Linked DNA regions of Homo sapiens. The protein of the gene in region 7 interacts with the protein of the main gene of each other region in a pairwise test. Each region holds a gene or a part of one and is shown on either strand. Other genes may lie near its edges. The genes, in order: TEAD2, SLC7A11, IREB2, GLIS2, U2SURP, PHF20L1 and TERT.

Region 1 (2,661 bases), on a different chromosome or scaffold from region 7:
TCGGAGATCCGAATCAGGATCTCTGAGCCTGCAAATCACAAGCCCCTCAAAGTGATTCTCTGAACCCCCAAAGACCTCTGGACTCCTCTAACCTCCCAGCCCTCAGATACCCTCCAAAGACCCCTCCATGACGTCTTCAAACTCTGACTTCTAAACTTGAGACTTCCCCAAGTCTCCAGCAACTGTAAGTGTGACTTCTGAACCTTCTTGCCCTAAGAACCTCTCCATATCCATAAGACCCTTCTCAATCTCAGTGACTCTAAGTCTCTATACTACACATTACCTGTCAGCCCGCAGAATGATCCCTGCCTGTGACTTCTGAACTGCCCATTAGCTCCCAACGCATGCATTAAACCCTCAAAGAGGCTGGGACCCACTCCCTCCATGCATACTCCCAAATGCCTGAGTCATGATGGCTTCTGGTCCATTCTGCACCCCCAAGTGCTGACCCAGAGCTCCACCCCTCCAGCCTCACCTCCACCTTCTCCACCACCTGCTTGCCAAAAGAGCAGACCTTGGAGGAACAGGTGAGGGTCATGTGTTCCAGGCTCTCATACTGGCTGCTCACTCCGTAGAAGCCACCACTGCTGATGCTGCCACCGGCCCCTGCCTCCTCACCACTTGGGCCCCAGTTCAGGTCCGCCTGGGAGATGGGAAGGCACAGATGAGTCAGAGGGGACATCCCTTATAAACAGTGGGGACTACCAGGCGCAGTGGTTCACACCTGTAATCCCAGTACTTTGGGAGGCCGAGGCGGGCGGATCACCTGAGGTTGGGAGTTCAAGACCAGCCTGACCAACATGGAGAAACCCCATCTCTACTAAAAATACAAAATTAGCCGGGCGTGGTGGTGCATGCTTGTAATCCCAGCTACTGGGACACTGACGCAGGAGAATCACTTGAACCCGGGAGGCAGAGGTTGCGGTGAGCCGAGATCATACCATTGCACTCCAGCCTGAGCAACGAGAGCGAAACTCCATCTTAAAAAAAAAAAAAACACAGTGGGGACTCTGCCCCATAGCCTACCATTACCCCTGCAGTTCCCGGCTTGATTCTTCAGTGTTGTTTTGTTTTTTTGTTGTTTGTTTGTCTTTTTTTTTGGGGGGGGGGGAACAGGGTCTTGCTCCGTCACCCAGGCAATGTGTGGTGGTACAATCACAGCTCACTGCAGCCTCGACCTCCTGAGCTCAAGTGATCCTCCCATCTCAGCCTCCTGAGTAGCTAGGACCACAGGTGCATGCCACCACATCCAGCTAATATTTTGTATTTTTTGTAGAAACAGGGTTTCACCATGTTGCCCAGGCTGGTCTCCAACTCCTGGGCTCAAGCGATCCTCCCACCTTGGCCTCCGAAAGTGCTGGGATTACAGGCATGAGCCACCGCGTCAGGCTTTCAAAGTTCTCCAAGGGCTGGTTTCTGGAGAAGATCCACCGTCCATCAGCGTTGAAGAAGTCTGGGTCCCCAAAACAGTCTTGGCCCTGTCTCCCCAGTAACCAAAGGAGCCCTGGAATTCAATTTCAACCTTTTTTCTTTTCTTTTTTTTTTTTCTGAGATGAAGTCTCGCTCTTGTTGCCCAGTGCAATGCCGCGATCTTGACTCACTGCAACCTCTGCCTCCCGGGTTCAAGCGATTCTCCTGCCTCAGCCTCCCAAGTGGCTGGGATTACAGGCGCACGCCACCATGTCTGGCTAATTTTTGTATTTTTAGTAGAGACAGGGTTTTGTCATGTTGGCCAGGTTGGTCTCAAACTCCTGAACTCAGGTGATCCACCCACCTAGGCCTCCCAAAGTGCTGAGATTACAGGCATGAGCCACTGTGTCCAGCCAATTCAACCTTTTTCCCTTGAAGCCCGCAACTCAAGAGTTCAGCCCCTTCCAAGGGCCTGGTTACTATGGCAGTTACTTCTTAGCAACCAGTTCAAGATGAATACCTCCCTCTAAGCCCCTCTCACTCTGGTTGCTAAGGCAAGTGGCTACTCCCTAGCAACGGGACCTCACGGAGCCTGAGGAGGCCTGACTCCTCCTCAGAGCACTTCCCCCTCGGCCAAATCTGAGAGGTCAGACTCCCTCCATGACCCCAGTGGCCAAGTGTGTGTAGACAGCTGGCCAAGTGTCACTAGGCCAAGTGGGGCCTAAGGAAGCCTAAGAGCTCATCACACCTTTGGTCTGAGTCACCTCCTTGCGAGGCGCACCTCTTCCTCTTCCTAACTTTAGTTGCTAACACTGTGCCAGGTCCGTCTTCTCAGGGGCCCGACTCCATCTCTCACCGTGGCAAAACCAAAGACCTTACCAGCTGCTCCTCTGAACCCCTTCAGCAGCTGGGCTTCCTAAGGGGGTGGCTCTCCAGTCCTGGGACCTGATAAGGCCTGTCTTAAGCCCCAACAATGTCTAAGCCCTCAGCTGCACATCCCCAGAGCAGTTTCAGGCTTCTGCTTCACATGGCAGAAAGCTCCAGAACCGTGAACAGCAAGCTCCAGAACAACAACACTCCCAGCAAGAACAGTAAAGTTCAGGCCCTCAGCAGGCCTTTCCTTCCTTTCCTTCCTTCCTTCCTTCTTTCTTTCCTTCTTTCTTTTCTTTCCTTTCTTTCCTTCTTCCTTTCTTCCTTTCTTTCTTTCGGCAGGGTCTCATTCTGTCACCCAGGCTGGAGGGCAGTGGCACA
Region 2 (3,500 bases), on a different chromosome or scaffold from region 7:
CTGTATTTCACTTTGTATGAGATCTTCTGATCCCTTATTTTTCCCATCTTGGAGTTTTTTCCAAAAACAAAATGTATTTTATTGCTTCATTTACTTTTGAAAATTTTTTCATCTTTATTGAGGTATATACAACAAATAAAATTGTAATTTTAGGGTGTACAATGTAATGATTTTATTTATATATATATATATATATATATATATATATATAGTGAAATTATTGTCTCAATCAAGTGAGTTAACACCTCTGTCACATCATTTAGTTACCCCTCTTTTTTTTGTTTTGTTCTGTGGTGAGAACATTTAAGTATATTTCAAGTATACAATTCAGTATTTGAAACTATAGCCACCAAAATGCTATATGTTCATCATAAAATTTATTAAACTATTCCTAAAAATAAATTTAAAAAATTGAAAATTATTTAGTGTTCTATCACTTATAAACACCTGCTGTTGATGTTTTGGTAAATATGTTTCCAGATCTATTTCTCCTTCCTTCCTTCCTTCCTTCCTTCCTTCCTTCCTTCCTTCCTTTCATCCTTCCTTCCTTCTTTTCCTTCTTCCTTCCTTCCTTCTTTCCATCCATTCCTCTAACTTGCTGTATTGATCAGTAATATATCATGAATATCCTTTCTTGTAATAAATATTTAACTGCCTCATAATTTTAAGTGGCTGCATATAAACTATTAAAATGATATACCTTAATTAGCCTTCCTTTAGGAGGTTTAGGCTATTTCCATTTTTTTGCCTTTAAAGATTATGTGTTGCTGACATTTGCATTGATTGTTAAATTCTGAAGTGAGCTAGTAACTATATCAGGCAGTGAAAACTGTGAGGCGGACTCATTACTATATATAAGGAAAACTTCCAATTTCAATTTGAATAATAAGAATTCTGTAGGAGTTTTGTTTCATTCTTTGAGAAATATCTTTACATTTTAAATATTTGTTTAGGGAGAATATACCTTTATAAATATAAAGGTTATAGTTAATAACTGTAAATGTCAGGAATAAAGTAGTGTTTTGGGTTGTTCCAAGCATAAGGTTGTGGAAAGAGTATAAAGTTGAAAACCACTGTCTAGAATAACCTCAGTCATCCCAGCAGAGTAGGGGAGAAAGGTCTTAGAGCATCACCATTTCCCTTGTGCCTTAGATTTTCTAACTGAGGATCCAGTTCATTCATTCAACAAAAATGTATTAAGTTACCTGGGCCAGGCATGGAGCTGGATACCAGCGATACAGCGATGAATAACCCTTGCTCTATCCTTGAGGTTTTCATGGTCCACAAGGTGTCGAAGGTGGATAGTTATTGCTGCTTGGGAAATTGTAGACAGCATCAGTAAGAATGAAAAATTCTTCTGGCTTTGAACCCAATGTGCATTCTAGCCTGGTTAGTCTTTTGCACTCATCACTTAGAATATTGTGCTGAAGCCCTGAAACATATCTTGAAAAACTATACTTGTACGGTGGGTTGAAAGTCGCCCCTTGACATGCTAATTAGAAAGAAGACAACCAAAAGAAAAGTGCTGCCTGAGGCTAGTCCTGAGAGTGAAAAATAAGATCTGAGCCAACTTCTACACTTCTTGCTCCTTCTTGAGTGTGATCCACATTGGCAGGCATACCATCATAGAGACAGGAAAGAGTTGTCACATCAAGCTAGACAGTGAAATTCAGCCATCTGATTGGATGCTGGGTTTGGTTAGAAGACATTTTTATGTGATTGTTAGAGTACTACAATATATGTCCACTCTTACATACAAAGAACAAGAGAAGAATTCTTATTGTCCAGAGGCTTTATCCATGTTTCTCAAACTTCAATGTGCATAAAAACCAGCTGGAGAACCTGTTGAAATGTAGATTTGTATTCATTAGGCCTGGGGCAGAGCCTGAGATTCTGCATTTCTAAAACACTTCTAAGTAATGTCAACACTGCTGCCTCACAGATTGCCCTTTGAGTAACAAGGACCTAAAATGTCTTTGTGCCAGTGAGAATTCACCTTTTGTAACTTCCTCTATTTGTTTGCAGCTGTAGTGATGGTCCTAAATAGCATGAGTGTCAGCTGGAGCGCCCGGATCCAGATTTTCTTAACCTTTTGCAAGCTCACAGCAATTCTGATAATTATAGTCCCTGGAGTTATGCAGCTAATTAAAGGTATGGACTGAAAAGCAAATGCTTTTTAAAATACGTATCTGCTTTTGGTCTTTTTTAACACTAACTTTTGCTTGTACTAACAGAATCCTTAATTAGTCTCTGCCTGTGGAACTTAAACTCTATATTGTCATCTAATTGATTTGAAAGGCTGCTACATTGTGAGTGAGTTGGTTTTTACAGTTGAATGGCAGAAAGAGGATTAAGAATGGGCCATGCAACAAAATAAGGCATCAGTGAATTTTCTAGGTTTAATGGTTTGGAGTGAAAACTCGAAGTGGAAAAAAAAAAAACCTGCCACTTAGTTTTAATTAAAGATAAATATGTCTTTTTTTTACTTTAAAATTGTCCAATAATAGTAATAAAAATTAAAGAGAAAAAGGTATCTGGAAAGTGATAAAAGATGATCAATAATTCTTTGACTTTCTGGTTATTATTCCTTTTAAATTGAGAGTGGTATCCTCAACAGAGGAGTCAATACGGGAACAGCATTCCTAAACACCAAAATTATATCACAATAAAATAGTTGTAAAAACTTAATTTTTATTGTTACATTATTTTTAATATAAAATTCGCATTTCTGCGATTACTTGCTTTATAGAGTTTAACATTTAATTTAAAAAAAGAAATTGAGAGGTGACATTTAGAGTTTTTGTTTTAGGAAAGAAGGCACATGCAGTTGCTTGGATTCAGTGGAAATTGTTGGAGGACAGAGATTCACATGTGGTATTTAATTAGCAACAGGAATATAGCAGGAAATAAAGTGAGAAGAAATTGTAAAGGAATGACATAACTTGGGCATGTTAAGTATTTAATGTTTACATTGATATTGTCTGTTCCAAGAAAGGGAATCTAGAGAAATTTAATGACGTTGCAGAAGAATTACACAAGGCAAAAGGAAATGCCAGCGTTTGGTAAAATCATCACTGTTGGTAGAAGCATTAAATAATGACAAACACTGAAGGATCAGCCACTCTGGAGCTGGGAAAGGGAGCTGCTGTTGCCCATTTAATAAGCCTAGTGGGAGATTTTAGAGCCCTGCTGGCGGAAATGCTTTTATGAAATCCAGCAACAGCAGCCAATGCAGAATAAACACAATGAAGATTTTGACCGTTAGAGCTTGCACTGAAGAGAAGACAGGAGCTTGCTCTTCTAATACACCTTGGCCTCCACAGAGCTAGCCTGCTCATTTCTATCTTATTCGTTAGGAATGTAGGCACAATAATCTGTTTTGTTAGTGCTTTATTTTTCTGAGCTAACTCTTCAGTCTTCTGTAAGGAGTTTCTTCAGTATTTGAAAAGTGCAGAATCTCTGGGTCATTGGCTGTTCTTTAATACTAGTTTAGATTCCAA
Region 3 (3,500 bases), on a different chromosome or scaffold from region 7:
CTACTTTTAATAAAAATAAAGTATATGTTGTTTTGTAACCCTTTTTTTCACTTAATATATCATGAACATCTTTCCATGTCATTGAATACAGGTATCCCTTGCTATCTGAATCTACTTGGTTTCTGAGTCAGGGAGCTTGAGTTCAGGTAGAAAGGGATACCTGTACTTCTCTGTGGCTTCTAATAGCTGCACAATATTGCCTGTATGAATGCATTGTGGTTTAGTTAACAGACCTTTGAATATTGAGGCTGATAGTAACTTTTCTCTATTTATAAATAAACTTTGTATGTGCTAATACTTACATTTTTGTGCAAACTTATCATTATATAGAATTGTTGGATTGAAAGTATGTTATTTCCTCCACCCCATCACACGCTTTTATTTTTATACTTTCACTATTTACTGTTGGTTCCAGTCTTTATTTTTTTTTTTTTTTTTTTGAGACAGAGTCTTGCTGTGTTGCCCAGGCTGGAGTGCAGTGGCACAGTCTCAGTTCATTGCGTCCTCCAACTCCTGGGTTCAAGTGATTCTTCTGCCTCAGCCTCTGGAGTAGCTGGGATTACAGGCCCATGCCTTCACACCCTGCTGATTTTTGTATTTTTAGTAGAGACAGGGTTTCGCCATGCTGGCCAGGCTGGTCTCGGAACTCCTGGCCTCAGGTGATCCACCTGCCTTGGCCTCCCAAAGTGTTGAGATTACAGGCATGAACCACTGCACCCGGTCTGGTTCCAGTCTTTACCTTGGACTAAAAAGAACAAAAACTCACTCAAGTAAAAAATAGGTTGCAGTTTCCAGACATCCAAAGACAAAGGAAGAAAGCATAGTCAAGTTTCAGGGAACCAGAATTTCTAAGCCAGAGGCAGTGTTCTGTTTGTCACTTAAAGGCTGCCTGGTTTCCTTATTTTCTGTTTCTTTTTGAATATCCAGTCTTCCATCTCTACAGCCTACTTCACTTACTCATTTTTGTATAATGCCCAATATGGCCACTGCTGACCATTCTTGTATGTTATGACTGGATTACTAACCGGTTAAGAGTGTACCTCTAGGTGACTCTTTTACTTGTTTTGTTTTGTTTGTTTTGTTTTTTCCCTCAGGGTCTTGCTCTGTTGCCCAGGCTGGAGTGTAGTGGTTCGATCATGGCTCACTGCAGCCTGGACCTCCCGGGCTCAAGTGATCCTCTTTCCTCAGTCTCCCAAGTAGTTGGGACTACAAGCACATGCCATCATGCCTGGCTAAATTTTAAATGTTTTGTAGAGACAGGGTCTCCCTACATTGCCTAGGCTGGTCTTGAATCCTGGCTTCAAGTGATCCTTCTGCCTCAGCCTCCCAAAGTGCTGGGGTTACAGGTGTGATCCATTGTATCCAGCTCACCTGTTGTTTTAACCTATTTTGACTGCACTTGTCAGGAGTCTATTGCCGGTCTGGTGATCTTGCTGGTAGAGACACAAATCTGTTCATCTTGTCTTTTATGTGGACTCTTGAAAAGACTGGGTTGGGTAAGCAATGTAACAGTTTGCTTGTAATTTGTACACATAGTACATAACTTTCCAAGGATTACCTTTACCTAACATCATCCTACTAGTCCATGTATAGCCATGTGCTCACCAACCCTCCACATTTCAACTTTGTTTTTATTGCCAATTTCTATTCTAGATTAGGCCCTTTTGGTTCCAAGGAACAGACACTAGCTCGAGTGAAGAAGGATTTATTGTAATGATACAGCGCTCCCCAGGCCAATGAAATGTGGCTGTCTCTCAAGAAAATGGTGGTGGCCCAGAATTAAGGAAGTTGTTTATTATTTTCTCTTAGGAGCTTCAGATTTCTGCCCTGTTCCACTCTTCTGCTTCCTCCACTTCACTATAGACAAGCCTCCTCTGCCTGCTCACTTTGTACATGGCCTCAAATGGCAACCTCAGTCCCTAGCTTAGCTCTTAACACCTTTCCAGTTCAGTCTCTCTGTGTCCTGATTACACATTTCTGAGAGGTGAATCTAATTGCCCCAGTGTCTCCTTTCTCACAAGACTTTTGGTCATCAGCCTACCAGGGGATTGGCTTTTGCGTCGCTGCTGTAGCCAAGGAGGCCACAGGCCACCGAGAACTGTAGCAGTTTGGACAGGCACCATGAAGGACATCTGTTGTATAGTGTTAGCAAAGAATGCCAGTTTACATGCTTACCAGTGAATGAGAAGAATATGTGTTTCTGCACCTTCATCAATAGTAGATATTATTTTTCTTGTTGGCTCAATTTCTGTCAGTGAATGAAGAGAAGAAAAAAAACTTTCTTCTACATTAAATTGGGGGGTTTATTGTGAAGATTTGAAGGAAATAAGGAAATTGAGGGGATCTGAGTGCGTGGTCAGATCAGACTCTTTGTTCCCTTCAGTAGGCATGCATAGAACCCATGATTCTGGCTTAGCTGATTTTCCCTATTTCTGCTTTCCTTTCTTTTTCTTTTCTTTCTTTCTTTTTTTTTTTTTTTGAGACAGGATCTCTCTTTGTTACTCAAGCTGGGGTACAGTGATGCAGTCATAGTTCACTGCATCTTCAACCTCCTGGACTCAGGCAATCCTCCCATCTCAGCCTCCCACTACAAGAAGACACCACTACACCTGGCTAATTTTTTTTTTTTTTTTGAGACGGACTCTTGCTCTGTCACCCAGGCTGGAATGCAGTGGCACCGTCTCGGCTCACTGCAACCTCCGCCTACCAGGTTCAAGCAATTCTCCTGCCTCAGCCTCCTGAGTAGCTGGGATTACAGGTGCGTGCCACCATACCTGGCTGATTTTTGTATTTTTAGTAGAGATGGCATTTCACCATGTTGGCTAGGCTGGTCTCAAACTCCTGACCTCAGATGATCCACCTGCCTCGGCCTCCCAAAGTGCTGGGAGTACAGGCGTGAGCCACCACTCCCGCTCTGATTTTTTTTTTATCTTTTATAGAGACGGGAGTCTCCTGAACTCCTGACCTCAAGCAGTCTTCCTGCCTTGGCCTCCCAGTGTGCTAGGATTACAGGCGTGAGCCACCATGCCCGGCCCATTATTCTGCTTTTCTTTTTCTCTTGGTTCTTTTTTGTTTCCATCTGTTTTCTGCCTTCTCCCTAAGTCAAGTTCAAGGTATCACAGAACGAGGCTGAGGCAGCCTATTGGACATGACATTTGTGCTTGGCGAACTCCCTGTGCCACTGGCCAGACTGTAAATTGGTTGTCTGTTGGAAGGCTGGCTCCAGGTCCCAGCTATTCATGCCAGGATGGCAAGGCTACACAGAGCCCACCAGCAATTGGTATAGAAGGAACTTTTTAGAAAGAGGGCTGTGGTATAGGCATTCTGAGGACGTGCCAGTACAGGTGAAAAAACAAAATCTTATGCAGGAATCTGTTTTGTTTTCTGCTTCCTCAGACTCTCTCAATGGCAATGTATGTATGTATGTATGTATATATTTATTTATTTGAGACAGAGTCTTGCTCTGTCATCCCAGCTGGAGTGCAGTGGCATGATCTCAG
Region 4 (3,500 bases), on a different chromosome or scaffold from region 7:
TAGGGTTTCACCGTGTTAGCCAGGATGGTCTCGATATCCTGACCTCGTGATCCGCCCACCTCGGCCTCCCAAAGTGCTGGGATTACAGGCGTGAGCCACCAAGTCTGGCCTTTTTTTTTTTTTTTTTTTTTTTTTTTAAGACACAGAGTCTTGCTCTGTCTCCCAGGCTGGACTGCAGTGGCGTGGTCATGGCTAACTGCCGCCGAGGCTCAAGAGATCCTCCTGCCTCAGCCTGCAGAGCAGCTAGGACCACAGGTGCACCACCACCACACCCAGCTCATTTTTAAATTTTTTATTTTGCAGAGATGGGGGGGTCTCCCTGTGTCATCCAGGCTGGTCTCGATCTCCTGGACTCAAGCCATCCTCCTGTCTCTGCCTCCCAAAGTGCTAGGATTACAGGCAGGAGCCACCACGCCCAGCCCGTCATCTTCTAATTTAACAGAAAGAGGAAGTGAGTCCCTGGTCACTCCTGAACCAGTCAGAGAAACCCTGGTCTGTGGGTGTCCCTGAGTCTATTACTGGAACCATCACTTCAGCAGTATGGTCTTACAGATGGGGAAACTGAGGGCTGAAGGGGGAGGCATCCAGCCCAGGCTGCACAAGTAGGTGGCAAACCCACAACCAGAAGCCACGGGCAAGCAGCATGAGGACAGTACCCATAGCCAGGTGCGGGTACTGTGAAGGCAGGTGCTGTTTCATCCCCATTTTACAGATGCAAAAACTGAGGCTCAGGGGAGTGAAGTGACCCATCCAAGGTCCCACAGCTTGTCCGTGGCAGAGCTGGGTTTCAACCCCAGGTAAGTCCAGAAGCCATGTTCACTATTGGCCCTTCCTATGTCAGGGGCTCAGGCTTGGTACCCCCTCCCCGCCCAGGGACTTGTGGGGCTAGGAGGGATAGCAGAGCAGGCAGTGGGTGGGCGCTGGAGGGGCTGGCTGGGGTGGGGGGCCCACCAGGAGGCTTGGAGAGCCGAGGGCAGATCTGCTGCCAAAGCAAACGGCCCCACAGCCCCAGATTCCTGGGAACCAGCTGCGGCTCCCTGCTCTGGCCAAGAGCTCCACCCTCCTTGGCCGCCCAGCAGCAGGGGCTGGCGGGCAGGGGCAGGGCCTGCTGGGGGCCCCAGGCAGGAGGGCTCGTCCTCTCAGGGCCCCCCTTCCTGACCAGGCAACAGAACCGGACTCGAAATCTGGGGCCCCACCCGGCTCTGCTACTCCCTTTGCGTGTCTCTTCAGTCTGCGCCTCATCCCCCTCATCCCAAATGGGATTATATAGGACCCCCATGTTGGGTTTCAGGGAGAAACCAATGCAGTGCTGCACATCCAATCACTATTGAGTGCTTCTCCTTCGTCCGTAACGTTCAGCACGGAGAACAGTGCCTGGCACATAGTAGGTGCTTAATAAAACGTGCTGAATGAATCGTCGCCAGTGTGCATGAGTCCATAGCCTTTGGCCCATCTACCGCTGTGAGGGCAGCTGAGTGGGGACTGGCCATCCCCTCTATGCCACTGCAGTCTCACCCTGAACCAGGAGAACCTGGGCTCTGCCACCTGCCAGCCAGCGTGCACCCTAAACAAGCCTATGCCCCTCAAAGAACCTCAGGCCTCTTCAATCCTGGGGAGTGACCACAGCTGGCCCTAACCACCTTCCAGAGCCCAACTGCATCAAAGAAAGAGCACTACAAGGCCCCGGGAAGGCCTGATCAACCCTGGAAGGAGCTGGCCGCAGACAGGCCTCCTCCCAGGACTGGAGGGGGAGGAGCTTATCCTGAGGCCTGGCCCAGCAGATCCCAGGAGAGGGGCCAGGGCAGGCGGCACTTCCTGGAAGAGTGGGGGATTCACCGTCCCTGGGAACCTTTGGCTCAGTAGGCAGCCCCTCCCCCTCCCAAGACGGGGCACTCAGCCAGCACCCCCGGACCTTTTGGGAGGGCAGACCCCCTCCCGGGGTGGGAACACAAGGGGTCCGAGGTGACCCAGCCAGGGCTGACCTCTGCCCTCTGCCGTGGGGTCCTCGGGAAAGCACCTGAAGATGGGATGTGCCAGGGATCTTTTTTCTGCGTGTTCACAGAGTGTGCCCCAGGGCCAGGCTGCCTGGTTACAGCCCCCTGTGCCACCCCTGGCTGTGGGAACTCAGAAAGGCCCTGCTGTCTCTGAGCCTTGGTTTCCTTGTAGGTAACAGACACCACGGCAATGGTCCCTGGGACTCAGGGCATCTTGCAAGGGAGGGCCTTGTCCTCATGCCTGCCATAAAGAAGCTGCCAGCTACTGGTAACCTAAAGGATTCTTGTTTCCGGCCCCAGGCTGGGGGTTCCCTGCACAGCAACTTGGGCCTGCCAAGGTCACCCAGATAATTCAGGCAGAGCTGAAGCTGGAAGACGGGCCGGAGGGCTTCCCTGGCCTGCACCAGCCCGGGCTTCCTAGGAGATGCCCCACCAGAGGCACTTCCTTCTCCAACGCCAGCAGGGAGGGTGACACCGGGCTCCGGGAGCCCCGGCACACACACGCACACTCACACAGATGGCCATGGCAGTCCAGCTGCAGGGCCGGCCTGGCACAGAGGCCTCCCCATCCTGGTGGCTCCGGGCCCCTGCTGCAGTGGCCTCCACCCCCCCGCTGCCTGCCCGCTGCTGCACCTTTGCACAACTATGTCTGGTATTTTCCTGTCTGCCCAGCTTTGGGGGGGTGCTTGGAGCTATGATCACCGCCTGCACCTGGGCCCCAGCCAGAGGAAAGCCCGCCCCGCAGCCCCCACACCTGCCCACCCACCCGGGCTGGGAGGGGAGGGGACCAGAGCACTGGGCCCTGCCACCCAAATCCCTGGGAGGGGCTGGCACCAGGGAGCGAGACAGGGATGCACGCCCAGCAAGGCTGGGGCACAGACAGCCCAGGCCCTGCCAGGCGGCACTGCCATTCTCAGCAGACCCAGCCAGAGCTATCTGAGGCCAGCAAAGGGATGGGCCAGTGTAGCACAGGACATGAGCAGGCACCCACAGCACCCCCGGATGTACAGACACCTGTGCACAAATGTGGCACACACAGGACATCACAGTAACCCCTTGCCCCAGTGTCGGGGCCAGGACTCAGGAGCCTTGGCTTCTGGGGGAGAGCAGGGATGAGGCCGGGTCCCCAGAGCGAAGGAAACACCGCGCCTCCCAAGCCACGCCTGGCTGCAGGCAGATCCCACAAGGAGCTCCTAAGTCCTGGGGGGTCGGGGCAGGCCCGTGGCCCACGCCTCCCCTGCCTGGGGCCAGGTACCAGGTCCACTGGGAACGGCACCCGCCAACTCCGAGAGCAGGAGTGGGTAAGGCGGGCGGTGGACCTTGGCCTGCCCTCCTGCCTCGGTTCTCCAACCACGCATTCATGCATTCCAACGCCAGGCCCTGCTAGATCGAACCGGACCTTGAGGGTGCCCCGACCAAGGTGGGGTGGGAGAAACAGTGTAGGGGGGGGGCTGCTCCTGCAGGGGGTTGGGCACAGATCCGGGTCAGCCTCATGGATATGGGGTG
Region 5 (3,500 bases), on a different chromosome or scaffold from region 7:
CTAAGAAAATATTTTGTAGTTTGATCAAAAATGGTTCTGGATAAATTGCCCAATCTTCCCATGCTCTGAAGCAAGTCATTACCCGTTGCTAAAGAAACAGGAAACAGACAACAAACTTTTATTTTGGGCTATATGTCTCAAATTTCAGTTCATGAGAATGATCATCAAGATTTGCTAAATTTGCCTTTAAACTGATGTTTTTTTAAACTTTAAAGAAAATAACTATATATCATTACCATATTTTTTAAAAAAATCAATGTCACCTTCTAATTAAAAGGAAAAAAACCCCTAAAAATAAATATAATGAAAAATAAACAGTAACTATTTGCTCTTTACCACCTAAGGTCAGCTCCCATACCATTAGTACTACCCATGAGCCACATTCCAGAAACACTTACATAGAAACTTACTAAAACTGGAAACCAAAGTAGCCAAGTTTTGACCTGAATCCCTTATGGTCCAATAAAGTACTTCCTAATTCTGGCTAATACTTTACTCTGTATCTTCCTGAAACTTGTCTTTAAATTCTAACTTATGGTCAAAATTTAAGGTCAAAAACTTTTAAAATGGGAGTTGTCTGAATGCCCTAAATGGTGGCGTCACTGGGCATCTTCCGAAACTAAAAATTTTTCTTAAAAAAGTCTTCTTCCCATGAAAGCATATTTACTTATTCAATTATAAGTGAAGTACTACACTTGGCTTTTCTTAACACTGGTCTAGAGCTTAAGAGGTTATAAAAAAATTGGTAACAGAATAGACTTTCTAAACATGATTAAAATGTATGTCTTTAATCCAGCCAAATAGTATATACCATTACAAAACAAGTGATTCTTCTGTATGTTTTATGAAAAAAGACTAACATTTATAATTTTTAAACAATATTTAAAACTAAAATTAAACCTGACAAAATAGTATCTTTTAAATTTTTGATTTGATAAAAACAAAAACGACAGAATTTTAAAACAGTAACTTCTGTAACATCTAAGTTTTAAATTTATGTCTCATACTTGTCTTATGCACTTTTCTAGCCCTTCAATGCCCTCCCCCCACCCATTTAAAACACTAGGGCAAAAATAGTAAAACAATAAACGTACCTTAAAGTTTTCAGATTGTAAATGGCCTTGAATTGTACGATAGGTGGCATTGAGGTCTGAAAATATCTGACATAACTTTGTTTCAAAACTGAAATTCAAATAACACATTCTTTAAAATAAAATGTTTAAAATTCCTTTCCCTTTTAGCATGCCAGCCAATGAAAACCCCTCCTGAACTTAAAATACTTACAAATCAAGAAATTATTAAAAATCAAAAACTAGGTGTTTAAACTCTAAAACCGTAACTGAATTGCTTGAACTCTTATTACTCTGAATTTTTCTCCTACAAACTCCCCAACAGTCCCTACTAGTTCCCTTTACGAGCAAGAAACGTTATATCTAGGATATGCTGAACCATCTCGTCCAATTTCTTTATTTTATAAAACAGAAAACTTAGAAAAGTGACTCGTCCAAGGCAAAAAAACTAATAGCAGACCTAAGAGTAGGATCCAGCTCTCTAAATTTCTTTTCAGAGCAACATCCTAGGGAAAAGCTTCCCTTTGCCTAATTCATAAAATAAACACAGAAAGAGAGCTCTGGGGAACAGAGGAAAAGTTATACTTTTTTTTTTTTGAGATGGAGTTTTGCTCGTCACCCAAGCTAGAGGACAATGGTGCCATCTCGGCTCACTGCAACCTCCGCCTCCCGGGTTCAAGCGATTCTCCTGCCTCAGCTTCCCGAGTAGCTGGGATTACAGAGGCACACCACCACGCCCAGCTAATCTTTGTATTTTTACTAGAGATGGGGTTTCACCACGTTGGCCAGGGTGGTCTCGAACTTCTGACCTCAGGTAATCAGCCCTTCTTGGCCTCCCAAAGTGCTGAGATTACAGGCGTGAGCCACTGTGCCCAGCTGAATTATACATTAATTATAATACAGCAACGTAACTTCCTTTTGCCTTAGGAAACATTTACAATGAACTAAAATCAATATGCTGAGGATCAGAAGAGAACACAGATTCTATAGTTAATAGTATGTCTTTGGTCTCTTATGTTTGCCAGTATATACACTGTTTCTATTTATTATATGAATAGCTAGATATGCAATAAAGTTCTCTTTAACACCTATTTGTTATACTGTCAATAGCTAAGAAAGTGATATGATATAAAATCTTTCCAAAAAATTGGTAATTTAGCTTAAGTGTAAGCCAATTTTTTAAAAAATTCTACAAACCATTAAGAAATTCAAATTAGTCTTCCCTCAGTATCCATGGGGGGACTGGTTCCAAGACCTCCCATGGACACCAAAATCCACAGATGCTCAAGTTCCTGATTGAAAATGGCATAATATTCACCTGTAACCTATCCTCATCCTCCCATCTGTTAAATCATCTCTAGGTTACTTACAATACCTAATACAATGTAAATGCTATGTAGAGTTTTCATACTATATTGTTTAGAAAATGACAAGGAAAAAAGTCTGTACAGGTTCGGTACAGATACAATTTTTCTTCTCAAATATTTTCAATTCATGGTTGGTTGAATTCATGGATAAGGAACCCACAGACATGGAGGGCTGACTGTACTTCTTATTCTTGCAGGATGTTAACAAAACAATCCTCTTTTCTGAACTCCTTACCCTTAAATACTTTATTTCAGGAATATCAGTTATATCATTATACTTACAATTTTCTATAATATGAAGCATTAGCAACTTTGGCTGAAGAGTTGTACAAAACATCAGAAACCAAATATAATCTGGCAATCTATAATATCAAAAGATAACACAAAATAGGTTAATATAAGGCTAATGTTTAGCTATAATTTAATTATGGCTACTAATTAGAAGAGTTATATGAAGCTCAGTATCACCACAACTATGACTCTGGCAGAGATGAAATTTGTTAACCCATTTACATTTCAACTTGTTTGTTAACTTGTATGTTAATGAACCTAAATTTCCAAGCAGAAATAACATAAGACTGCATGGGAAAAATCTCATCAGTCAAGTGCTTTGTGCAAAAAGGAAACCAATTCTAATCCCAAAAGACGTCAACTATCTCCCCTTTTCTTAAAATTCATTCCCATACCTTTTTAGGAAGGGGTGTCTTTAAGATGGACAACGACTCAGTAATGCAATCCACTATTTCTTCAGCAGCTTCAGCATTATTAAGACAGAAAACCATTGCATCTCCAATATCATTTTTCCTTGGAGTTAATCCCCGCAAGATTTCTTCCAATTTATCCCTCTGTCTGAACATAAATTGTTTTAACTTATAAATATTTAGATACAATTTCAAATGCCATTGTAGCTTTTGCTCACAAACTAATTTCTTTAAAACCTACTCACATAAAATAATTCTGAAGACTGTAATACATTCAGTCTGATTTGTGTTGTGTCCCCCAAAATTGTTACAATTTTTTGAAGAATTTATATAAGAATACTCTGTAGAATAAGATTCCAATT
Region 6 (3,500 bases), on a different chromosome or scaffold from region 7:
TGTTGACAAGGGGCAATAGATAACTGTTGGCCCAAGGTGCCTGTGAGAACCTGAACCAAGAGTATTTTTCAAAAGACCCCTTTTCAAAAAACTTGATTTACTCTATCCTCCCAGATACTAACAGAATTAAGATTTTCTGAGGCTGTATCCTTATCTAAAATTGGCTGGCTCTGTGACAAAGCATCCTGATAGTAAAATAAAAACAAAGGCATCAATTTTTACAAAGATACCAATTACTTGTTTGGTAATGTAGGCAGCAATAGCATTCTTAACAGTGGCTAGACATGTGGGCATCCACCCCAGCAGAAGAACATACGAGAGATTATTGCAAGTTCATTATCTCTATTGGAAAACAATTAAGAAAAGTTGTATATAATAATTGGACTATCTGCAAATCTCATCAATCCTTCAGCATCAAATGCTAAACTCAACAGTGTGAATTTATCTTGCTCCCCCAAAAGTAAAAACCTAACCATGTTGAACAATTTCACAGTTAGCAACTAACACCCTCATCATTCTAAACTCCCCAAGAGTTTCAATTTGACAAAAATAACTCAGAAAATGTCTCTGACGAACTGTAAAGAATGTTTTCAATTATCAGTTTTAAAATTCAACAGTAAGAAAATTTACTTTTATAATATGGACACCAACAAAACATACATGTGTGTATGAGTATGTGCATATATGTACATATGTATCAGAGAAATAAAAACATAAAAACCTGGCACTTTGGCTCTAGATGTAAAAGGACTTGGGGAACAGACAGAAGCATAACAAATACTGCAAAATAGTCAAGAGAGGGTGAATAACAAAAAGGTTAAGGAGAAAAGCATAGAGACCACCGAGAATTTCAATGCACGTGGGACAGGCACACAAGGTTGTAATCAAAAGGTGTTCAGTCAGAACATGACCTAAATTGCACTACTTTCCTCAAAAACTAAAAATTAAGAGGTCACAGAAACAAATGAGAATTTCACCTCCCTCTATTCAAATACTGTGTTCAACCCTCTAATAAATCTTCAGTAATTAACAATTAAAACTATGCATTTCCTTGCTATAATCAATTAAAGTTGACAGCTACTGTACTATTAAGCTCATCATATCCAGATAATCCTTACTCTTCCACAAATTCAAATTATAGCTAAACTCCTCTCTACCTTTTACTTTCCCAGAAAACGATCTTACTTATTTTACTTTTCCAATAGTTACTGCTAATATTTAAAAAGGGAAAGAATATTCGTGTGCCTTCCTCTAAGGTAGTCAGCCACATTGCCACAAATATGCTAGAAATTCTGAAAAGAGGAAGTTAATAATCTGGTTAGAAGCAAAATCATCGAAGTCAAGGACTTCCATGCACAATCACTACATTGATATTTTATGATATATAATCTGTTAATGTAAGACTCTTAGTTATTACACAGTTACTTATATTGGCCTATATTTCAATATTGTTACAAATATTAGAATACTTTTAAAGAAAAATGTAAATATTTTCACATGTACATTTGAAAATAATTTTCCCAATGTATATACAACCTTATAACTTTAACATATTTTTCATATATTCAGTACGGTAACAAATTCCAGATCGTTAAAGAACCGAATAAGACCTTTATCAAAAAAGTATCTCAATGGGTCAATGACAATTTGGAAATCTTGTGGAAAAGTGGAAAAGAAAAATTAATTATCTTAAGGAAAGACCAAGAGTCAAAAGACAATAGATCTGATTTGAGAAACTACAGGAAATGTTTCAAAATCTACAAATATTCACATTTGGGTATTGTTTTATTTTTTTAAACATGATAAAGAATTATCATGTACAAAGTAACTTCAACCTTTATATAAAGATAAAAATTAATAAAAATAAGTATATGTCTCTTATGTTACTTCAATCATTTTATTTCAATACATGCCATCACCAGAAAAGAATAAGTTTCATTTTATGCTTCATCCAAAAAATGGATAAAATGGTTTCAGGGAAGACGCCTGTAAACACAATGATCACCAACACCCTTGGTAACGAATCAACAAACTGCCTTATGTTTTTCTCCAACTCACAACAAACTAAATTCAGACTTCCTTCAAACATCTAGTTCCAACAGTAATTTACCAGAAGTGCATTTGTAACTAGTATTGGCCTTTTTATTTTATGTGTATTCTAGATCAGGTTATAATTCTTAAAAACTTCTAAATAAAACAATGCACCCACATAAGGGAAACATGAATAGATATTATTAGATTTAAAATATCAGCTTGGTAAAATACACATCCAAATGCTTTCGAACTACAATAAATATCACAAAATCATGCAAAAAATGTGTTATTAAGGATGGCTGATTTTACATATTGCACTCCTCAAATAACTTTACAGCAAATTTAATTCAATTTGGAGGATTCTGCCCCAAAATATGGAATTATATTTAAGATACAGGCATATAGCTCAGTGTTTCTTAAATATTAAATTCTATCAAAATCCTTAAACCAAAGTACTGATCCCATTAAGTATTTCCCAGCTTCAAAAGTAAGAATTCCTGTAACTATACTTGGCTCTAATAATTTATATTTAGTAGAAATAAGGATATATAAAAAAGAAGCAGGGAGAAGGAAATAGATCAAGTGACAAGGTTAAGCAGCATGTATGTCCAGGGAATATGATTGTAAAATGATCACACAAAAGACCTTTAAAACGGAGATGAAACTCTCCTATAAATGTTAAAGTATTTATGAAAAGGAATTATATAGGAATCAAAATAATGTAGTTAAACCTCAAAATGTTTATACCTAATAACTGCAAGCCTAGCTACTTATCTACTTATAGGAGCCTTTATTTTTTTTCTTTTACCTGCTGCTGCTGGAGCTCCTCTTCCATCAGCTATTGCTTTGGAAGAAGGATTTGGAAGCATCTGTGTATCCTCTTTTTCTGCCCTGGGACATTCATTACGGTAAGAGGAATCTGAGGCTACCGGTGCTGTAACTTCTGAACCACGACTTAAGTCAAGAGGGAGACAGGGTCCCAGCTTCTCAAGTGGCAAATGTGCAACATCAGGCACTACACAAAATAAAGAGTGTAATGTAATATTAACACAGATAAAATGGCTCAGTTACTATCACTGTGAATTAAAGTGTTACATAATTTAAACAGTGCCTGGCACAAAGAAGGCACTCAATAAATATTTGTAGAATAAGTGAAGTGCTTATAACTCCAGAAGATATAAGAGCAGAAATATCTTAATATTTTAATAATCTTTATCTCTTAGTTTTTTCTTTATCTTCTTTTATGTTTGGTTCTATAGGAAATCAATATACATTACCCTCTGGTACTGAAGATTCTTGCTGATTTTGAGAACTGATGGAGAATACTTTCCCATCAGTGGCTGGAGAGGGAGAAGAAACCTTTTCTACAGAATCATCAGGCATGGGTAAGGTGGCTAAACGCTGAGATCTTCTTCTCCGCTCACTATGCTTGAAAGGTCTAGGGGGATTCACAGGCTGTGGAGGAC
Region 7 (3,500 bases):
TTCGGGTTTGGAGAGACTCACGCCCAGCAGGGCCCGGGCGTCTTGGGTTCGGATCCAGACTGCTTTCTGAAGACACCTCAGTGCACCCAGGTCTGGTGCACCATTTCCTTTTACCAAAATAGCACAGAAAACTGCTCCCGTTGTGAGCACCCTCACTCCCACAGAAAGATGCATTTCTGCTCAGCCCCAGATGGGACGAGGGGCACCCTGTGGCCTCTGACCCTTTGGGATTGGCAGTCGCCTGCCCCACACGGAAGCAGAGGTGGACGCAACGGCCCTGCAGCAGCACCTGCCCCAGCCGGGCACAGGCTCCACTTCCGGCCAGGTGCGCTCACCTGGAGTAGTCGCTCTGCACCTCCAGGGTCCGGGTATCCAGCAGCAGGCCGCACCAGGGGAATAGGCCGTGGGCCGGCATCTGAACAAAAGCCGTGCCACCCAGGGCCTCGTCTTCTACAGGGAAGTTCACCACTGTCTTCCGCAAGTTCACCACGCAGCCATACTCAGGGACACCTCGGACCAGGGTCCTAAGGCAGAGGGGCAATGTCAGCCCCAGGATGCGGGGCCGTCACCCAGGAGGTAACCTGACACCCTTGTTAAATGCTTTGGAAAACCCCAGAGAAGTGGTGATTTGGAGCAGGGTGCTGGGCCTGGCAGGAGCTCTGAGGAGCCTGGACCCAGCCCTGCTCCAGACTTCGGGGTGCTTTCCCTGTCTCCCGGGCAGGACAGGTAGGTGAGCATGCAAGAACCTGGCCTGGACCCGGGACAGCCAGGACTCAGATGGGAGGTGCAGCCCCAGTGGCCTCTGTGATGGTCCATCTCATGTGTCCCCATGGCAACACCACAATCCCGTTATAGACTCATCTGTGGTCCGGGGCAGACTAAAATCTGGACAAGAAATTGCCACCATCCCACCTTCTTTTAAGACGTTTCTCAACGACTTTGCCTGTTTTCTCCTAGATGCCCTGAAGGCATCTGCTGTGCTTTAGACAAAGGGGAGGGTTCTGAGTTCCTGCTCAGGCGCGGGACCTGGCTGGGCTGTGAGCTGGGCAACACCAGTCGTCAGCTTCACGTCAAGGAGGTTCCCTCGCCGAGTCATGAGCCTCGCTCACCCAGCTCAGGGAGCCCCCCTGTGCCCGGTAGCCTCTGCTCTGGCCTGGGCATCCCCTTCCCTTCCTGCGGCCTCTGCTGTGGCCCCGGGCGTCCCCCTGCCCTTCCTGTGGCCTGGCCCTGGGACCTCGGCCAGCTGCGCAGCTCCCCTGGTGCATTCCCAGCTCCCTGTGGCCACCCCTTCCTGTTACATGGCTGCCGACTCATCAGAGACAGAGTTCTGCCCCCGGTGGGACCCCAACATACACTCTGAGCCACCTCCCTGGCCAGCACCCTCAGGAACTTGCCACACAGAAGCAGCGTTCCCCGTCTGCTCTGTCCCCTCAGCAGCCTCAGGACTCCTGAGCCCTCAGTTGCTTGGGACCTGGGCTCCCCCCGAGTGAATCTTAGTGGATTTAAATGTGCACAGCCTGCTGTGCTCCGGGCTGCGGCACAAGGAACGCCAGGCATACCCCCAGCCCAGGGCGGCCCTGGAGGGTGGACCTGGAGGGTGGACTTGGAGGGCGGGTCCAAATGGGTTTTCACAAACACAGCCCAGCAAAGCACCTGAAACCACCCCTGGCGGCCACATTTTCTGAGGGTTCCCTTTACAGCTTTCAAGGTTTCTCGTCCCTCGTCAAATCGCACTTTAAAACAAGCCCACCGGCTCTGTGGGGCGCCCTTGAGGGGGACCACATTGGACAATCCCCTGTGCTGAGGCCAGGTCCCCTGTGCCTGATTTTAGTTTGATTCACAAAAATCAACTCTGAAACCCACTCCTAGCCATCTCCGTGGTTCAAGACAGCAGCACTCAGCAAATCCAAATTCTCCCACCGATCCCAAACAACCCCACGCAGGAACGTGACCGCAGCGAACGCTGTGGGCCAGCTCACTCAGCAGCTCCTGCTCTCCGCAGGCTCAGGTGCACCCTGGGGAGGAGGCTGCCGCCTCGGCCCTGCAGGCCCTGTGCACAGCTCCTGGGGGTCTCACTGGGGCCCCAGGAGCCGCCACTCTTGACTTTCCAAAGAGCAGCAGGAGCCAGGTCACCGCCTGCACTCACCACGTGTGTAACCTGGGTGCGTCTCTGCAGGACCAGGGCCTGCACGGTACCCACTCCCTCCCGAAGGTGCCCCTGCGCCCCCAGGCCTGGGTGCACGGCCAAGCGCCTCTGCTCTTGCGGATCCAGCACCGGCAGAGAGAGAGGACTTGGCAGAGACAACGCTGCGGTGCCAGGGGCAGGACACGGGGGGCTCAACTGCAAAGCCCACAGGCTGTGGAGGTCCCCACAGACACACGGCACGGGCCTCACCTGAGGAAGGTTTTCGCGTGGGTGAGGTGAGGTGTCACCAACAAGAAATCATCCACCAAACGCAGGAGCAGCCTAAAATAAGGGAAAATACACAGCAAGGTTAACTTTACACTTTTTACGTAGTATCTGTCTACGAGGGACTGAATGTCAAACAATTTACACAGCCATAAATAAAGTAACATTCTCCAAAGCGGTTAAATGAAAAACTTAAATTTCTTTCCAACAGACGAGCTCTCTACAGTTAACTGCTACAGCAATTCCTCATTCATTATAAGTACTCAGTGTTTACCATCAGCTTGTGCAATTCTGTGCCAGCTGAAGACGAACGAAGGCCATCAGGCGCGGCCCCACTTCTCAGACTCTTAGGGAAAAATAACTGAAGACGGTAAGAAAGCTGGGGCTGGGAACCTCGCCCCCTCTGAGCCACGTGGTGCCCTTTACCAGCATGGCAGCTGTGGTCCTCAGCATGATCCGAGACCCAGATCCTATCCACAGGAAGCTGGGCATGGTGCACTGTGTGACCCTCAGGCCCAAGCCCAGCGCCCCATGACCATGGGCCAGAGGTATCCTGTCCCAGAGGGCTGACCAGTGTGCCGCCAGCTCGAGGACACTTTCCTCCAAATCCCAGAGCAAGTTGTGTGTACAAGAAATTTTTGTTTCTGTTACATAAACTTATTTCAATCTAGAACTTGAACCTTAATGAAGAAGAACCTTGATCCACTGTACATGCTATAATTGGAGCTAGAGTTTCAAAAGATGCACAGGAAAAACCCGGAGTCTTCGAGAGAAATGGCTGTGTGGCCTGCAGGCTTCCTGACGCATCCTTCACTAACTGTCTGCTTGTTCAGTGATACTATTTTCATAAAAAAATAACTGCTGTCCACATCCTCTCCAGCACCAGAACACTTTTACACTGTTGGTGGGAGTGTAAACTAGTTCAACCATTGTGGAAGACAGTGTGGTGATTCCTCAAGGATCTAGAACTAGAAATACCATTTGACCCAGCCATCCCATTACTGGGTATATACCCAAAGGATTATAAATCATGCTGCTATAAAGACACATGCACACGTATGTTTATTGCGGCACTATTCACAGTAGCAAA

Evidence for each region.
Region 1: the proteins of TERT (region 7) and TEAD2 come close enough for resonance energy transfer, tested with the Homo sapiens proteins (one large-scale study listed by BioGRID).
Region 2: the proteins of TERT (region 7) and SLC7A11 interact in a two-hybrid assay, tested with the Homo sapiens proteins (one study listed by BioGRID).
Region 3: the proteins of TERT (region 7) and IREB2 interact in a two-hybrid assay, tested with the Homo sapiens proteins (one study listed by BioGRID).
Region 4: the proteins of TERT (region 7) and GLIS2 come close enough for resonance energy transfer, tested with the Homo sapiens proteins (one large-scale study listed by BioGRID).
Region 5: the proteins of TERT (region 7) and U2SURP interact in a two-hybrid assay, tested with the Homo sapiens proteins (one study listed by BioGRID).
Region 6: the proteins of TERT (region 7) and PHF20L1 interact in a two-hybrid assay, tested with the Homo sapiens proteins (one study listed by BioGRID).

What each region holds. Positions count from the first base shown.
Region 1 is NC_000019.10:49,342,756-49,345,416, forward strand, and holds part of TEAD2 (transcriptional enhancer factor TEF-4), read right to left. Parts: intron 644-2,661; coding exon 476-643; intron 1-475. UniProt on the Homo sapiens protein: Transcription factor which plays a key role in the Hippo signaling pathway, a pathway involved in organ size control and tumor suppression by restricting proliferation and promoting apoptosis.
Region 2 is NC_000004.12:138,221,850-138,225,349, reverse strand, and holds part of SLC7A11 (cystine/glutamate transporter), read left to right. Parts: intron 1-2,025; coding exon 2,026-2,151; intron 2,152-3,500. UniProt on the Homo sapiens protein: Heterodimer with SLC3A2, that functions as an antiporter by mediating the exchange of extracellular anionic L-cystine and intracellular L-glutamate across the cellular plasma membrane.
Region 3 is NC_000015.10:78,444,716-78,448,215, forward strand, and holds part of IREB2 (iron-responsive element-binding protein 2), read left to right. Parts: intron 1-3,500. UniProt on the Homo sapiens protein: RNA-binding protein that binds to iron-responsive elements (IRES), which are stem-loop structures found in the 5'-UTR of ferritin, and delta aminolevulinic acid synthase mRNAs, and in the 3'-UTR of transferrin receptor mRNA.
Region 4 is NC_000016.10:4,322,567-4,326,066, reverse strand, and holds part of GLIS2 (zinc finger protein GLIS2), read right to left. Parts: intron 1,420-3,500; exon of another isoform or gene 1,292-1,419; intron 798-1,291; exon of another isoform or gene 713-797; intron 1-712. UniProt on the Homo sapiens protein: Can act either as a transcriptional repressor or as a transcriptional activator, depending on the cell context. Acts as a repressor of the Hedgehog signaling pathway. Represses the Hedgehog-dependent expression of Wnt4.
Region 5 is NC_000003.12:143,032,570-143,036,069, reverse strand, and holds part of U2SURP (U2 snRNP-associated SURP motif-containing protein), read right to left. Parts: intron 3,287-3,500; coding exon 3,124-3,286; intron 2,800-3,123; coding exon 2,720-2,799; intron 1,183-2,719; coding exon 1,095-1,182; intron 89-1,094; coding exon 1-88.
Region 6 is NC_000008.11:132,816,888-132,820,387, reverse strand, and holds part of PHF20L1 (PHD finger protein 20-like protein 1), read right to left. Parts: coding exon 3,312-3,500; intron 3,050-3,311; coding exon 2,843-3,049; intron 1-2,842.
Region 7 is NC_000005.10:1,264,069-1,267,568, forward strand, and holds part of TERT (telomerase reverse transcriptase), read right to left. Parts: intron 2,468-3,500; coding exon 2,396-2,467; intron 525-2,395; coding exon 336-524; intron 1-335. UniProt on the Homo sapiens protein: Telomerase is a ribonucleoprotein enzyme essential for the replication of chromosome termini in most eukaryotes. Active in progenitor and cancer cells. Inactive, or very low activity, in normal somatic cells.